Linked DNA regions of Homo sapiens. The protein of the gene in region 2 interacts with the protein of the main gene of each other region in a biochemical or structural test. Each region holds a gene or a part of one and is shown on either strand. Other genes may lie near its edges.

Evidence for each region.
Region 1: the proteins of GPSM1 (region 2) and USP9X form a complex in vitro, tested with the Homo sapiens proteins (one study listed by BioGRID).

The regions. Positions count from the first base shown.
Region 1 is NC_000023.11:41,165,445-41,168,944, forward strand, and holds part of USP9X (ubiquitin carboxyl-terminal hydrolase 9X), read left to right. Parts: intron 1-427; coding exon 428-770; intron 771-2,037; coding exon 2,038-2,133; intron 2,134-2,562; coding exon 2,563-2,774; intron 2,775-3,500.
Region 2 is NC_000009.12:136,341,039-136,344,538, reverse strand, and holds part of GPSM1 (G-protein-signaling modulator 1), read right to left. Parts: coding exon of another isoform or gene 3,379-3,500; exon of another isoform or gene 2,701-3,378; intron 1-2,700. UniProt on the Homo sapiens protein: Guanine nucleotide dissociation inhibitor (GDI) which functions as a receptor-independent activator of heterotrimeric G-protein signaling.

The DNA of each region.
Region 1 (3,500 bases), on a different chromosome or scaffold from region 2:
CAAACTCCTGACCTCAGGTGATCCGCCCACCTCAGCCTCCCAAAGTGCTGGCATTACAGGCGTGAGTTACTGTGCCCAGCCTAAGTCTTTTATTTTTAACTCAAGCTACTAAACATGCTTCTTTCCAAAAGTCTGGTTTCAAAAACTAAAGGTTCATGGAATGAATCTTTTATTCCTAATTCAGCTAGCTGCATTTCAGGCACAAAGTGGGTGTTCAGTGTGTGCTTGTTGAATTAATTAATATCTAGTGGGGATTTTTTTTTAGTACCAGATAAAAGTAGAGAAATAGGTTATTTTGAAAGAATGAATATCTTTTTATCTATAGTTAAAATATAATGGTGATAAATGTATTTTATAGGTAATACAGATTGCCTTTCCGGATAAAAATTACATAAATCTAATTGCCAATTTTCAATGTTTTTTCAAGATTTTTATTGAAGGATGGTCAGCTGTGGCTATGTGCTCCTCAGGCAAAACAAATATGGAAATGCTTAGCTGAGAATGCAGTTTACCTTTGTGATCGTGAAGCCTGTTTTAAGTGGTATTCCAAGTTGATGGGGGATGAACCAGACTTAGATCCTGATATTAATAAGGACTTCTTTGAAAGTAATGTGCTTCAGCTTGATCCTTCTCTGTTAACTGAAAATGGAATGAAGTGTTTTGAGCGATTCTTCAAAGCTGTGAATTGTCGAGAAGGAAAACTAGTAGCAAAAAGGAGAGCCTATATGATGGATGACTTGGAGTTAATAGGATTAGATTACCTTTGGAGGGTAAGTCAAAAGTAGGAACTCTGTAAATGGTGTCTGATGTACTTTTTCATGTACGTAAGGAATTGTAATTTTGCATATAAATTGTGTATTTTACTCTGATGTTTGTCTCAGGAATTTGGTGTAGTTAGGAATTGTTCATTTTTATTATGTCACCTGTCAGTGGGCTTTTTCTTCTCTCTTCCTCTCCCTCCTCCTGCCACTGATGTTCCTTTTGTCTTAGCTTAGTATCTGTGTATTCCATAGATGTGCACTAAACATACAAATCTTTCATTCCTCCCCCGTGGATATTAATGTTCCTTCCCGAGTTTTCATTCAGTGTCGATCTGTTTCCTCCTCTTCAATGTTTAACACTAAAATAGAGGACAGAAGAGAGGACTTGTGTTTAGTATAGATTATGAGTATATGCTTTATTGGCACTGTTTACCTTGTGATATTTTTAAATACCTGGGGGAATAAAATACTATCTTTTTAAGGCTAATCTATTTTTATAGTACTACTCTATTATGCCTATCTTTAATCTGACCTGTTATACAGCAGTTTATATTGTTTGGATGTCTCACATATTTTCCTGCAAACCATAGATAAAGATGTTTATTGTGGCATTTGAGTATTTAAAAGCTTTTAATTAAGTATGTGGTTTTCAACATTGTTTTAACAGCAGAAACACATCTTAAAACTCAAAATTTGCACCACACTACAAAAGTAAACTGAATTGAACAAGGAAAATATGTTTTCTTACTTGGTCTCCCCATGCTTATCCCCTTTCCCCTCCCCAACCCTTTTATAGGGGCCAACACTGAAACACTTCCTCAAAGTCCCCTAGGGTTCTGAACATAGTTTGGAAACCACTAATGTAATTAGATGAGTGATAAAGATTTATAGAAACTGGGGGTAGAGTAGTCCTTTATGCTAAACTGTGTTTCATGTAATCTCTTATTTCCTGTCAACTAATTTGAATTTCTTCTTGAGTGTCTCACTTGGTTATCAAGATATTAAATTATAGGGTTAAATAATAGTGGTCAAAGCGTATTTTATTTTTACAAAAATGTACCTTTCATTCTTAAATTATTCAGAGACTTTCATTTTGCATTTATTACCCTTTCTTTTGGTCTGTGCTTCTCACTTAATTTTACTTGATTATCAAAGTCAACTTACCATTAAATCATTGAATAGTGTGTTTAAGATAACTGAGGATATGGTTTGAATTTAAATGCCCAACAAAAATATATGTTGAAAGGGATGAATACTTTTATCATTTTGAAACCAGGTCGTGATTCAGAGTAATGATGATATTGCCAGCAGAGCTATAGATCTCCTCAAAGAGATATACACGAACCTTGGTCCAAGACTACAAGTCAATCAGGTGAGGATTGATGTGCATTAAAACTTCCATATATAATTCTTTCGGCCCCCATTTCTCTTATACAAAAGAGAAAAAATATTATCTAAATGAATCTTGCCTTGTTAGTTGTCTTGAAGTGATTGGGTTATTTTTAATATAACTATTTATTAGATGTTGAAATGGCAAAGAAAGTCTATGTGAATTCATTTTGATGCTAACACCTAATCCTGAAGTTCACTTTTGACTAATTTATGTTTGTTAACTTATGTAATGCTAGCTTCCTTTTAATAAACATACATTTTATTATTGTATGGATTCTCTACTTAAATATGACTGTTGTTAATTGAGTGCTACAATTAAATCAGCCATTGCCATCTTTAATTGGATTAATATTTGGTTTTTACATTTTAAAGCAATTTTAACTGTGTTTATTTGGCCTGATATTTGTAGGTGGTGATCCATGAAGACTTCATTCAGTCTTGTTTTGATCGTCTGAAGGCTTCCTATGACACATTGTGTGTTTTGGATGGTGACAAAGACAGTGTTAATTGTGCAAGACAGGAAGCTGTTCGAATGGTTCGAGTATTAACTGTTTTAAGGGAATATATAAATGAATGTGACAGTGATTATCATGAGGAAAGAACAATTCTCCCTATGTCGAGGTTTGTGAATAACTAATCTATTGGTGCTAATTCTTAATTATTTGATATTTTCCTAGCCATTTGGTAAAAGGAGAGCAGAAATTTTTCTCGTTTGAAAATTGTTGTCTTTGCCCATTAAAAACATTTTCATTTCATCTAATTTTTTTTAATAACCTCCCCCACTCTCCCATCTGGTTTTGTTTTGGTTTTTTGGGTGAGGCATTCTTAAGTTGTTTTCTAGTTTTCTTTTTGTCTTTGACATTATTACTCATTAAGTGTTGCAGTGGCATTTTGCAGTTGAAGTGTTTTTGTTTATTTGTTTATTTTGAGAAAAGGTCTTATTCTGTCACCCAGGCTGGAATGCCGAGGTGTAATCATGGCTCACTGCGGGCTCAAGCGACCTTTCCACCTCAGCCTCCCAGGTAGCTGGGGCTACAGGCACAGGCTACCACACCTGGCTAATTTTTTTTGACTTTTTGTGGAGGTGGGGTTTCACTACATTGCCCAGGCTGGTTTCAAACTCCTACGCTCAAGCAAATCCTCCTGCTTTGGCCTCCCAAAGTGCTGGGATTATAGGCGTGAGCTACAGTGCCTGGCCTGTAAAGAGCTCTTAAAAGCTGCCTTGCATGGCATATAACAAATATTTTCAAATGGTGTTTATAGTTTTGGGATGTTTTGTGTAGTCAATGCCATCATTTTTTTTAAAGAGTTTTGTTTATTAATCATGAAATTATATACAGTTGCTTC
Region 2 (3,500 bases):
AGAAGCCACCAGTGTTCTCAAGCTCCCCCTTCTTCCTCGCTGTCTCTGCTAGGTGAGGACACAACAAGAAAGCGCCGTCTGCCAGCCCGGAAGAGGCTCTCGCCAGCACCCGAGCACACAGCACCCAAACCCTGGCCTTCTGGCCTCCAGAGCCGTGAGGAGTAAACGTCTGCTGTTGCTGCCCCGGCCTGCGGTGCTTTGTGAGGGCAGTCGGAATGGACCATGATGGTCATCTCCCAAAGGTGCTGCAGCCTGCTTCCCCTGTTCCTGTCCGCGCCTCCCCTGCTCCTGTCTGCGCCCCACCCCGCTTCTGTCCGCGCCCCCACCCCGCTCCTGTCCGCGCCTCCCCCCGCTCCTGTCCGCGCCTCCCCCCGATCCTGTCCGCACCTCCCCCGTTCCTGTCCGCACCTCCCTGTTGGGCTTTTCTTTCTCCCAAAGCTCATCCCATGTGGCTCACTCCTGGGCTCCCCGTTCCTCACCTATCAGCTGCTGGACGCGGCTCAGCGGTCTTGGTGCCAGTGAGGGCCCCAGCAGTGCCTGGCACACGGCAGGAGCCTGGTGACCAAGCAGCAGGCATTTACTGTGTATCTGCTGCGTGCGGGACCCTGTGTGCCATTTCCCACACACTGTCCCCTCTGGGCCCTCTTAGGCGCACGGACAGAGGGTGCATCCTCCATCCCGGCGGCTGCCCAAGGGCCACTGGGCTGCTGGAACAGGCGGATGGTGCTGCAGCCACACCTGCCTCGTCCACCCAGGGCCCGAACGCAACAGGCTTACGGGCCCTCAGGCTCGCTGGCCTCTCACCCCTGCCAAGCTCTGTTCCCAGCACTACTGATGGGCCCGTTCCCCAGATGGGGACACTGAGGCACAAGTGGGTCAAGTCACTTGATCAGCTGGCCAGGGCTGGAGCCCACAGCCTAAACTGCAGGGGAGGTTATGCCATGCACATCCCTGACCCCAAGGCCACTCGTTGGGACGTTCAGGGGACTTCTCCCAGGAAGGCTGGTGGCATGCTCCCCCAGTAACTCTTGTGTACCGTGCTCACAACGCCCTGAGCAGGGCCCAGACGGTGGAGGGCTGAGAAGTACGGTCAGCAGGGCCGAGGGCAGTCGCACATCCTGTGGGACAGGCAGGGCCATCGGGGACAGGCCAAGGGCAGGGGGCGGTCCTGCAGGGCTCAGGGCCGGCTCCCTCCTCCCAACATGCCAATCATGCTGCCCGCACCAAGAGTGGCAGCAGAGCCTCCGTCCTGCCTGGCACCCTTGCTGGGGTGGGGGGTGGGCAGCCCAGGAGCAAGTGTGGGAGGCCCGGGCCTGTGCCCTCTGGCCAGGGAGGTGGGGGCTGGTTGCTGTCAGGGTCTCATAGAGGCCACACACCCAGAGGAGCTGGACAAGGGCAGTGGCTGGCAGGGTGGTGACCCCCAGACACACTTCTGGGGCTTCTCTGCTGGCTGGGGAGGGGCCAGCAGAGGGCGGTGAGATTAATACGCTGACTGAGCCGCGCCAAGGCTCTTTGTCCTCCAGCCGCACGTAAGTCTCCTTGTGTTTATCAACGGGACACCAAACCCACCAGCCTCTGCCACGCCCACCGCCCCCATGGACCACGCCCACAACAGCAAGGCCACGCCCCACCGCGTCCCCGCCGGGCTGAAGCCCCACCTCCAGACGACTTCCTCCTCCCTGCCCACACCCCGCTGGGCAGCGCCCTCCTGTGCCCCCAGCCCTGGCGCCCCCTCCGCACGGCCAGGCTCTAGCGCGGCTCTGCACCCCCCTCCCCTCCCGCAGCTCGCAGATCCACCCCGCCCTCCGCACCTGCCGAATGGGGAGGCTGCGTGGGTCCTTCCGTGGCGCCCCCAACCCGCAACGCCGGGTCCAGACTCCCGGCCTCAAGGCCCTGTCCCTGCCAGGCTCAGCTGAGCCGGGGTCTCACCCAGGGCCGCCCAGGCTCTAGGTGTGCAGCCTGCCTCCCACAGCGGCAGCCGGGCGGCGGCCCCAGCCAGGCTGCCGGGCTGCCCTGGGCGGGGAGGAGGACCCTTCCCCAGCCCTGGGGGAGGAGGCGTCCGGCCGGCTGGAAGGGGTCCCGCACTCGGGGCGGCACAGAGGAGCCAGAGAGGGACAGAAGCTGCATTGTTCCAGCGTCCTCCCACTCCGGCCCCCCTTTTCCTTGGCTCCAAGAAAGAAAACGTCGGGAGGACCCAGAGCCGCAGCCTCCGCGGAGCCTTTCCAGAGCTGCTCCCAGCCCTGCTGCCAGTTGCTGCTGGGGTCCCAGATGGTGGCAGTGCCGAGCCAGGGACACAGGAGGGTACTAGGGGTGCCGCAGGAGCTCTCGGCAGAGCTCCCCACCCTTAGGAAACCCCGGCCATGGGTAGAAATAGGCCTGGACATCCTGGGGGGCACATTCCAGCCCATCCCCTACCCACCCACTGCCATCGGTCACAGCACCTTGTCCCACGGACTCGCTGAGGGCCCCAGAGCCTCTGCTCCTTCCTCTGTCTTCAGCCTCTGCGGTGGCTGACATGCACCCCCAATTTCCCAGGAGAGGTCATCGTCAGAAACCCATGAGCACTGTGGCACAAAAACCCAGGGGATGGCTGGGCACGGTGGCTCACGCCTATAATCCCAGCACTTCTGGAAGCCGAGATGGGAGGATCGCTTGAGGCTGGGAGTTTGACACTGGCCTGGGCAACATAGTGAGGCCCTATCTCTATAAAAACATTTAATTATTAAAAATAAGATAAGAAAAAGAAACTCCGGCAGCCCAGCACCACATCCAAGCCTGGTGTTCCCAGCCTGGTCCTTAGCAGGCCTGGGGGGCACCAGGTACGTTCTGGGAGGCAGGCATCCCTTCTCGGGGGCTGGCAAACTCAAGACCTTTGGGAGTGGGGGACACATGGGTGGGGCAGCTGCTCCCCCCAAGCCTGCCCCTCACCCACCTGCCAGCCACCTCAGGAAGTCGGCCCAACCTGGCACCACCCCCCTGGCACCTATTAGTCTTTTCGCTTTGCAGGGGACGTTCTGTCCTGTGTCTGCAGCACTGCTGACCGGCATGGGACGACCAGCGGTCCATGAATGAGGTCACCACGGTGGCCTCGCATGGCCTTGGGCCTTGCCTGATTACTGCCCCAGGCACATAGGGCTCCCACAGCCCAGCCCAGCCCAGCCCAGCCCAGCCCTCTGGCTGATGCCCTCTCGCCTCCCAGCAGCCCTCTCCTACTTGGGTCTGAGGACAGAAGCCCTCCCTGCACCGAGGGCTCCAGGGGGAGGTGGGGGTGGAGGCCCTGGAGCAGCCAGTGGGGCAACAGGCGACCACCTCCTGTCCTTCATCCAGCAGCCCTGCAGCGCCACTCAGGATGCGGGTGGGAAGGGCTCAGGGTGAACCTCAGGCCTGTGCTGTCCCTGAGGCCAAGAAGAACTGGCTTGTAGGCGCCATTTTCTGGCGGCTGCCACCTCCGCCATGCTGGCCTGGCCTCGATCCCACCCCTCCGCAGCTCCTGATGCGGT